Regions from separate parts of the Homo sapiens genome. Here region 1 is linked to region 2. The links come from fine-mapping of genetic effects on gene expression. A gene starts in region 2. The other region holds a variant in brackets. All regions are shown on one strand. Distances are between the middles of the regions.

Region 1 (5,383 bases), 34 kb after region 2:
ATCTGCATGTCTACTCAGCATTTGATTAACATTTGTGTAATATGAAATAAAATTACACAGTAAGTCATTTAACCAATTAATTTTTCAGCTTGTATTTTATGAAGTTACATTCATGCTTCTATGTAAGATGTATTTATCATCTCTACCCTACCCACACCACCTTGTCCCCAGAATCACAAAAGATACTGTTTGGAAAGTGGTAAATCTCTCTCTAAAATGCCTGTTTTGCACATATCATTGGTATGATATTTATAAGCTACCTTTTTTATAATGTGTTCTCACTGATGGCTCAACAGGGACTATCAGTCAGAATTGCTTTTCATTATTATTTTATTAGATCTTAATACATGGTTGAATTTTAAAATACAGTTTTTTAAATTAAGTTCAGAAGAAACGTAGAAATTAGAAAAATTGTCTAATAAAATAAAATGGTTTAATGGGCTGGGCCCAGTGGCTCACGCCTATAATCCCAACACTTTGGGAGGCTGAGGCAGGTGGAATTCAAGACCAGCCTGAGCAACATAGTGATACCTCATCTCTAAAAAATATATAAATAAATAATAAAATGCTTCAGGACCTCTACTTTTAGCCAACATGGGGTAACAAGATGAACAACCAGGTGCACTGCCCAAAGTTCTGCCCACTGGGAGGATTTCTCTTTACCACTATCCTTCAGGGATGTCCCAGAGAAGGGCTGGTGTACTATGGCTATCCACTTTCAGGTGATGCCTACATATCACACAGAACCATCTATAAACTAGGCCCATGTTGTTTCTTCCTGTCAACTCATCATAGGGAACTCTCCATGAGCTTGGGAGAAAAAAGGCAAGGTAGCAGGAACAGGGACCATGGGCATTTGGGTCACTTCTTCATGTAACTTGCTTTTGCCTTCAGGTCCTGCCTGGGCCCAGTCACATACATAACACGTTCTTTGATGATGTACTCCTGCTGTCCACACCCAGCATTATGGCTTGTGGGTCAGATAACACCCAGCTCATGATGGGCAGCTCAGGTCGCATGGTAACTTAATTGACCACGGTAAGCATTCAGTCCCTACTGAAGCCCAGCAGTAGGCCCAGAGCTGTTTCTCAAAAGAGTAGTTATCTGCATAGGATAACAGGTCTTTCTTCAAAATACTAAGGGTCTGCACTGAGATTCATCTATGTGGGCCTGCCAAAGGTTCCAACAGCATCTCTATCTGCCACTGACACTTCAAATACCACTGGATCTGCAAGTTCATATGTCCCAAGCAACAAAGCCGCTTACACAATAGCCTGGACCTATTGCAGAACCTTTCCTATTCTGAGTCCTACTCCAAACTAGCAGCTTTTCAAGTCACTCAGTAAATGGGCCAGAGTAACAAACTCAAATGAGGAAACGTCTTCAAAATCCAAAGAGGCCTGCCGCATGTCATGCCTCTTCTGGTTGTAGGAGGGGGCAGATGCAAAAACTTACCTTAGAAGGGGTATCTCAACATGCCTCATACCACTGGACCCCTAGAAATTTTACTGAGACATGAAAAAGCCTTTGAATTTTTGTTGGATTTACTTCCCACTTCTGACATGCAAATGTCTTACCAATAGGTCTGGAGTAGTTGCTATGTCTCACTCATTAGGTCCAGTGAGCATAATGTCGTCAATGTAATGGACCAATGTGATGTGGAAAGAAAAGGCAATCAAGATTCCTGTGAACAAAATTAGGACAGGGCTGGTGAGTTGATATGCCCTGAGGTAGGACATGAAGGTGCATTTCTAGCCTTGCTAGCTAAAAGCAAACTGCTTCTGGTCGGCCTTATAGACAGGGATGGAGAGAAAGGCATTTGCCAGATCATACCAGGTAGCTGCATACCAGGAACCAGGAGTTGTGTTAATTTGCTCAAGCAATACATCTGGTACTGTAGCTGCAATTGGAGTCACCACCTAGTTAAGTTTGTGATAATCCATCTGTCTTCTGCCCAGGCTAAATAGGCGAGTTGAATGGACATATGGTAGGAATCACCACCCCGCCTTCCTTCAAGTACTTATGGTGGCACTAATCTCTTCAGTCCCTATAGGAATTGAGCATTGCTTTTGGTTTACTATTTTCCTAAGTACAGATAGTTCTAGTGGCTTCTACTTGGCCTTTTCCACCATAATAGCCCTCACTCCATAGGTAAGGAAACCAATGTGTGGATTATTCTGTCAGCTGCTGACTGTATTCTAATTATACATTCTAGAACTAGGGGATAACCACAGGATAGGTTCAGGAATTCACTGGGCCCATTGTGAGATGGAACTAAGCTAAAACTCTGCTGATCACCTGACCTCCATAAGCTGCTACCCTGACAGTAGCACTTTGGATCTCCTGAAATTAGTGTCACTTCAGAGAGCCAGTGTCCACTAGTTCACAAAAGATCTGATTATTCCCTTTTTCTAATGCACAGTTACGTTGGTAAAGGTTGTACATCCCTTTGCGGAGGACTAGGAGAAAGACTAACAGTATAAACATTTGGTTATGGACCAGGGTCCCTTTGAGGTCCTCCCCTTCAATCAAAGGGTTTTGGGCTCTATAAAGTGGCTCAAGTTTGGGAATTAAGGGACCACGATTCTGTTTTTATGATTCGAGTTCAACTTTCGTCACTTGACTTAGAAGTTTTCTGCTTATACAGATCAAGTTAAGACTTCAGTAGGCTTCCTATCTATTTCACGTCTAGGAAAACCATGATCAACTAGCCAAAGCATAGGTCTACAAGTGAGATTATTCTAATTGTTCCTTTGGCTCTGTCATTATGATAACCACTTCACCTTGCCTTTGGTGGTTGAGTCCCATTACTTGACCCTTGCCACCCTGGGATCCTTTACTTCCATTATATTTAGGTTTTCCAGTTCAGTGACTGCAGTGAGCTCTGGCCTACAGAGAAGAGCCATCACAGAGTTCTGAAAAAGATGCTGGAGCTCTCCTCGCAAATTTCTTTCTCATAGTATTGGTGAAAGGTATGCTTTCTTGACCTTCCCAGTGTGGATGAGTAGTTCTTTTTTTTTTTTTTTTTTTGAGACGGAGTCTCGCTCTGTCGCCCAGGCCGGACTGCGGACTGCAGTGGCGCAATCTCTGCTCACTGCAAGCTCCGCTTCCCGGGTTCACGCCATTCTCCTGCCTCAGCCTCCCGAGTAGCTGGGACTACAGGCGCCCGCCACCGCGCCCGGCTAATTTTTTGTATTTTTAGTAGAGA[C/T]GGGGTTTCACCTTGTTAGCCAGGATGGTCTCGATCTCCTGACCTCATGATCCACCCGAGATGAGTAGTTCTTAAGTGAAAAATCTAATTTCCCAATATTCCTAAACCTTTTAATCCCATCCTCTAGATTAAACCAAGGCATGTCCAGCACTTCCAATTCATCTTTTCCATGTTTTAGTAAGCCAATCAAACTGTGAGCACCCTTTCTAACTCCCCAAGCTGCAATGTTAAATGCAGAATCTTGGCTTAGTGAGCCCATGTCAATAAATTTGACCTGATCCAACTTTATGTTCCTTCCATCATTTTCCAACACCTTTATTATCCATTCCGACATATGTTCCCAGATTTTTGTCTGTATAAATTAGAGACTTTGAGTAACTCTTTGGAGTATAGCACATCTCTTCATAGGTAACACTTTGTTCCTGTCTAGTTTCAGGTCTAGAAGCAAAGAAGGGTGGTGGAGTTGGGTCTGGAGGAGAACCAACATTGTCTTGCATATCAACTGCCTCAAAGGAGGCCATTACAATTTCCTCAGGCAATGCAGTGTTAATCATCACAGACAGGTTGGAGGGTACTATCACTGGAAATGGAGAAGCTGCTTCCAATGGGGTTGAGAAGCCTCTCCACTAGCAAAGAAGACTCATCAGAATTTAGGGGCTTAATGTCCCCAGCTTCATCAAGGTCTTCCCATATGTCCCAATCCTAATTTACAGAATCCCATTTTTTTTTCAGTAAGTGCCCTCCTTTTGACAATAGTCACTCTGCAAGGCTGGAATTCTAATTTGTGTTGTAATTCAGCCAGTCACAGGATGAGATGCTGTGTTTGATTTTCAACAGTCTCAGCTCTGGGGCTACAGGAGATAGGGTTTTCTTCAGGGTGCACATAGAAGCTTTCAGATTATTTATGGAGCACTTGAGCTGGGAATAAAAATCCCTACACTCACTTTTGCACCACTTTATCCAGTGACATTAGAAACAACCAACTGTCCTCATTATACTCATTATGAGGCAGAATAGGTAGTCAAGGAAGTAAACATGCCCTTGGTATGCAGCAACTGTGGCTTACTGCACCACATACTTTAACAAAATAAGCCCCAGCATTCACATTGTAGTCAAGCTAATTCAAGCAAAGCTATCTTCAGTAGGAAATTTCCCTGTATATAGCATATACATTTTGATTTTACCTATCCTCAGCCTGACCCTTTGTTCATTATAATAGTAAAAAACCCACTGCTGGGTGGAGATTTAAGATGCTAATGAGACATGCGATATATGAACAAGCATGTACAGCTACTGCTCTTGTGCACCCAGAGGACCACCCAGAACATGCTTACTAGTAACACCTCTTCCCACCCCCTTATGATTAATCATGTAAGACTCCCAGAAAGGGAGTCTCCCTAGTGCCAGTCTTTATGATCTCATCCTTACCAGCAGCCTGTACTGAATCCTCTCTCTAAGGATGTACTATCTATTGTGCACTTAACTTTCAAAATATTCTTTTTCCTTTGCAATGAATTGTTTAATGCTGCAACTTCTCCACTCTGTGTCTCTTAAGTTCTTTTAGACTAAGAAGACAAGAACAAAGGTTTCATAACAGCCATCAACAATTAGTTTTCCAAAAATCAAAAAAAAATATCATATACACAGTTAGCCAGCTCCTTGCCTCTTATAACTGGCTGATTAGAAGTGGCCAATGCAATTATTTTGTGTATTTCTATTGCCAGATCATGCTATGCACTCAGTGCTCACTTTACTAACTGGAAAGAATCATTAACACGTTTAATAAGATCAGAGTACCAATCCCAAGAACCCTGGAACCATCAGGAAACTCATCCTTAACATTCTGTCCCTCTAGAACAACTCTTGGTACCAAAATCTGTATTAGTCACAGTTCTCCAGAGAAACAGAACCAGTAAGAGATACATAGAAAAGTTGATTTACTATGAGGAATTGGCTGACATGATTATGAAGGCTGAGAAGGCTTGCAACCTGCCATTTGCAGGCTGGAGACCCAGGAAAGCAGGTGTTGTTCAGTACAAGCTTGAAAGCCTGAGAACCATCATAGCAGAAGGTATAAGTCTCAGTCCAAAGTCAGCAAAAGACTGGGGTCAGGAAGAAGGGATTAATTCTCCCTTCCTTTGTTTTTTGTTCTACTCAGCCTTCAATGGACCCTCA
Region 2 (5,383 bases):
CCACCTCCAGGGTTCAAGCGATTCTCCTGCCTCAACCTCCCAAGTAGCTAGGACTACAGGCGCCCGCCACCACGCCCGGCTAATTTTTGTATTTTTAGTAGAGATGGGGTTTCCCCGTGTTAGCCAGGCTGGTCTCGAACTCCTGACCTTGTGATCCGCCCGCCTAGGCCTTCCAAAGTGCCAGGATTACAGGCATGAGCTACCGCACCCGGCAAAATGTTGTTTTTAAAGTAAACTTTTAAAAACGTTTTAATCTTTTTGTTGGGCAATCGGCATTAAAAAAACTTTACGTATTCCAGATTTGATAGATTAGTTGTGACTAACTGTTCACAAACTCATGTTTTTTAAAAAAATAAACAAAATATAAATTTAAAAGAGACTGCACCAGGCCCAGTAGCTCAGGCCTGTAATCCCAGGACTTTGGAGGCCAACGTGGATTGCTTGACCCCATGGGTTTGAGGCTGCTGTGAGCTACAATCTCACCCCTGCACCCCAGCATGGGAGACAGGGACCCTGTCTCAATAAATATATATTTTTTTTTAAAGAGAGAATGCCTAAACTCAAATCCATTTTAATTTGTTGCCAAATTTAAGTTATAGAAAGTGAAATTAAATGTCACTAGGAAAAGCCCACATTTTAAAATATGTCAAAATTAGTGAGAAAAAAATCCCACTGGTCTATACGTACATCAGAAATCCCAAATTCAGCAGCTACTGCTAAATTCCGAAAGTTACTGGATTTACTAATTTATAATCGTAATCTAAAACCATTGTTGAGGAAACTATGAATTGTACAATTCAGAAAAGTAACTGAGATCCAAGCTGACATAATGTCTTTCACACGAATCTTGAGGCACTCAAAGCACCTCCATATACTGTAATATATATAATAGCTAATAGCTAACATATAGTATGAACTTATTACATACCAGTGAATACTCCAAGCTCTTCATACACGTGAATACCATGTTAAGCTCAAAACAATCCCATGAGAAGGGTACTATAACTACCTTATCTTGTGGATAAGGAAGATATAGAGACACTGAACAATCTCTCGCCCAAGTTTACAAAACTAGGAAACAAGTAGTCTCCCTTCACCATATTACACTGCCATCAAACATCTTGGGCATCTAACCTGAGAACTAAATCTAATTTCAACCTGTTAGTTTAATTATACACTTAACAAAGAAAAAGCGGGTCCAGATCCAAAGAGCATTGGTGAAAAGAAATAAAAGGAGTACTACTTATTTTATGCACACACCTCTTCACCACCTGCTTGACCACTCCACAAACATGCAGGATTTTCAAGCTTTTAGATGAGAAAACTAATCACCTGACATCATCTCTAAATTCTCTGCCCGTTATTCTATCCCTATTTTCTTTGTTGTCCTTTCCTATATTTATCTATTTATGAATTACGCTTCCGTACAGGAGCTTAACCTCTCCACTGCAGGTACGTTATCTGTTGTCTTCCTGCCTGTCTTCAGTGCACGGAAGAAATATTTGTTCCTTTAGCAACCTAGTTAATCTGTTCCCAGCTGAAGCCCGTCAGAGAAGCAGAAGCAGCAGTCTTAGTTTGAAAACTAAACACGAAAATAGGCTCCTCAAATTTCCACAACTCAGCACCTGCCCTGAAGAGGCGGGGGCTCTGACCAGACCCAAACCTGGTCAGTGTTATCCTCTTTCTCTTTCTGCCAGCCACAGGAGCCGTCGGGACACCCAACAGTCGTTCAGGGAAACGGGGCTGGGGGCGTCTGGGAAGAGGAAACTGAACACAAGCCCCGAGCTGCCGCTACCTTGAGGATCTCGCGGCCGCCCACCGACAGCGCCACATGCCGGCTCTGGAGGCCGCACTGGATATCCTGGGCGCGCGTGCCTGGCGGCACCTGAACTTCAATGAACACCTCCTCCAAGGTCTGGTACCACTGGCCCCACGGGGTCCCGCACGGTACCACCCCACTCCGCTCCTCAAACGGGGCCGACATAATCCAGTCCCTCCCGGCCGCGGCCGCACCAGGCGGAGCCGAGCGCACGCGCGGAATCCCACGCTTAGGCTACGCCTCGGCCTCTCCGCTCGGGTCACTGCGCATGCGCAGGAACGCAAGCTAGCGCTTTGGTGTGCGTGTTCGTTTTTCCCTTTGAATGGCCGTTTACGGCACCGGCAGGCCCCGGATGAAAGAACTGAAATCCAGAAAAGTTCACATGCAACGAACAATGGGACAGAATTGGAACCAGTGAAGCCGGAACTCACTACACCGTCCCCTAAGTGACGCCAAAATGCACTTTCTAACGTCTCCGGAGGGAAGTGCGCTTGCGCAAATGCTAGGTTACACTTGAGTAACTCCGGGAATGACTGGGTGGGTGGGGCGGGGAACAGTAACGGTCTCCTATTGGATGGCAGCCTAAACTCGCAGGCCAGCTAATTGGACGCAATCAGAACCCAGCATTCTTTCTTCGTGTTCCTGTGCGGGATTGGTGTGCCCAGGGGTTTGGCTTTCCAATTGGCTAACGCCGGGGTGGGTGGGGAATGTGGGGAGATTTGAATTTGAAACCGGTAGGGAGTGATAATCCGCATTCAGTTGTCGAGGAGTGCCAGTCACCTTCAGTTTCTGGAGCTGGCCGTCAACATGTCCTTTCCTAAGGCGCCCTTGAAACGATTCAATGACCCTTCTGGTGCGTAAGGGGGAAAGAGCTGGGGGACGGGAGACGCCCTAACGCCCTTTGCCTCTTTCAGCTCCCTTCTTGGGAGGCAAGCAGGAGGCGATTTTAGGGTCGGGCTGGGGCTCATTCAGTTGATTGATTTTTCTCAAATATGCTCTAAGCATCTGTTACATGCCAAGCACTAATCAGGATGCTAAGGATACCGCAGTGAAACAGTCTCCGCCCCGTGGGGCTTACATTCAGGCGGGGAATACTGTCAATAAACAGCGGTAATGGAGAAACTACAGCAGGGCGAAGGGAATGGACCCGAGACGTTGGTAGCTACTTGATTTTCAAGTCCGAGAGGGCCTCACTGATAAGAACACTGGAGTATTACTTGTAGTCTGAACTTGTGCATTTCTTTTGTGTATTCCATTTGGGCATAAAAGAAGGAAGATTAGTAAAGGCAGTTTATGGGTGTAAAATTAGAGCAGCAGCACTTATTGAAAACATAAACAATGAAGTTATGGCTGATATTGACCACTTATACCTCAAGCACCGTACTAAGGCTTTACATCGATTATTAGTTATGTTAATTTCCCACCAACTCTAAGGGGTAATCCTATTATTATTTTATTGATAAAAAGACTGAGACTTAAATTTGCTCAGTGCTACATTACCAAAGTGACCGGACTGGAATATGAACCCAGCCCCCATCGTGTGCTCTTAACACCGCAATGCACAGCACAGTAACCAGGAAGCCTTAGCTGTGTTTGGTAGGCACTCATCATTTAAGATGCTGTATGCGGCCGGGCGCGGCGGCTCACGCCTGTAATCCCAGCACTTTGGGAGGCCGAGGCAGGTGGATCACGAGGTCAGGAGATCGAGACCACCGTGAAACCCCGTCTGTACTAAAAATACAAAAAAAATTAGCCAGGCGCGGTGGCGGGCGCCTGTAGTCCCAGCTGACTACAGGCTGAGGCAGGAGAATGGCGTGAACCCGGGAGGCGGAGCTTGCGATGAGCCGAGATCGCGCCACTGCACTCCAGCCTGGGCGACAGAGCAAGACTCTGTCTTACAGAAAAAAAAAAAATGCTGTATGCTGGGACTGTGCTACTAGATCTTGTTTATTCCTTCCAAAAGCCAAGTGAGGAAGGTACTGATATTGACCTCATTTTACAGATGAGAAAACAGAGGTTTTGTATCTTGCACAATCAGTAAGTGGTAGAGCTAAATATTAAAGCTCATGATTTATTCACTATCATACACTATTTCGTGGTTACTCATTACGTCTCTAAGTTTTGTCAGCCAACGTGTGAATGAAAATACAACTACTCACAAAGGAAGGCCAAATGAGCAAGTGAATCAGCACAAACTTATTTTCTTAGTTAAAAGACTCAAGGACCATATGATTTCCCGAGTAATCAAAGGACCTACTCTTAAGTTTTGTCAGCAGTGTGGCTTTAAGGTTTTTTTGGTTTTTTTGTTGTTTGCATTATAGTAGGTTAAACTGGCTTTATCAAAGATATAGTATTTCAGGCTCACAGTTACAGAAATAATACTAATTATTAATTTGATGCTTAATGTGTATGAGGCACTGTGGTGATTTTTCATATTCCAGTACTCCAGCCTGGGTGACAGTGCGAGACTCTGTTTCAAAAAAAAAAAAGCAAAAAAACCCCCAAAATTTATATTTCAACCTAAGATGTATTTTTATATCTCTACACATACATACGAAAGAAAAGTTTCACAAAACAATGCCTAACTTTGCAGCATATGAGTCATGCTTTTTCTATTGTTTTTACTTTTTAAAAAATGCTAATCAAGATCTACTCATGGGGCTGGGCCTGGTGGTTCACACGTGTAATCCTAGCACTTTGGGAGGCCGAGGCAGAGAGATCAGCTGAGGTCAGGAGTTCAAGACCAGCCTGGCCAACATGGTGAAACCCTGTCTCTAGTAAAAATACAAAAAACTAGCTGGGCGTGGTGGTGGGAGCCTGTAATCCCAGCTACTCGGGAGGCTGAGGCAGGAGAATCGCTTGAACCCAGGAGGCAAAGGTTTCAGTGAGCCAAGATGGCGCCACTACACTCCAGCCTAGACAACAGAGCAAGACTCCGTCTCAAAAAAAAAAAAAAAAAAAAAAAAATCATGAGTTCCTGTCTACTGTTTGACAAACATTTAGGGGACAGCAGTAGTTGCCTGGGAATGGTCCAAGCTCCTTGCTCTTCCTATTTATTTGCATGAGACTCTAGACTGAAGTAAATAGCTTTTCAGAGAATAGTATTAATCTATTTGTTCCCAATCAGCTAAAGCTTTAGGCTAGTAGTATTTTAATTACTTTAAGTCCTAAAGGCCCCATCTCAGGTCTGCTATGTGTATTTACTCAGAAATGCCTTCAAATCTGGGACTTTAGTTAAGTGAAATTATGCAGTATAAACTTCTGGAACATACAAATATAGTCTAGTACAATTTGTACTTTGTGTAACATTGGCTTTTTGAATTTCCTAAGCCTCACATTCTTTGTCTATAAATTATCACACAGGATTCTTGTGAGGATTAAATAAAATAACATCTGTGAAATGCTTAGCATAATGCCTGGCATTTAGTAAGTGCTCAAAAAATTCTAGTTGCTCTAGTGTGGTTGCTTTTCTTCCATGTGTTTGAATTGCAGTTGACATCTTTAATAGGTCTGATGTATTGATATTAGCCAGAGATGGATTATCACTATAAATTTTTATTCTAG

Which allele goes with the higher level. Alleles are on the strand shown, and positions count from the first base shown. SD is a standard deviation of normalised expression in the study named.
As copies of T replace C in region 1, the expression in activated naive CD4 T cells of the gene that starts at base 2,566 in region 2 goes down (moderate effect, 0.73 SD a copy in Schmiedel 2018).

Evidence for each region.
Region 1: its variant is fine-mapped to the expression of HMMR in activated naive CD4 T cells (Schmiedel 2018, PIP 0.95).

Annotation. Positions count from the first base shown.
Region 1 is chr5:163,491,866-163,497,248 of GRCh38, forward strand. It overlaps HMMR-AS1 (HMMR antisense RNA 1), which reads right to left and starts at 2,193. Exons shown (of 4, transcript NR_109892.1): 1 at 1,834-2,193; 2 at 1,578-1,684. HMMR (hyaluronan mediated motility receptor) reads left to right here. Exons shown (of 18, transcript NM_001142556.2): 18 at 1-76. The variant C/T (reference allele first, on the strand shown) is at 3,209.
Region 2 is chr5:163,458,067-163,463,449 of GRCh38, forward strand. It overlaps HMMR (hyaluronan mediated motility receptor), which reads left to right and starts at 2,566. Exons shown (of 18, transcript NM_001142556.2): 1 at 2,566-2,672. The coding sequence starts at 2,627. NUDCD2 (NudC domain containing 2) reads right to left here and starts at 2,036. Exons shown (of 4, transcript NM_145266.6): 1 at 1,796-2,036. The coding sequence starts at 1,984. RefSeq lists enhancers at 1,753-2,002, 2,753-2,812 and a silencer at 2,333-2,422.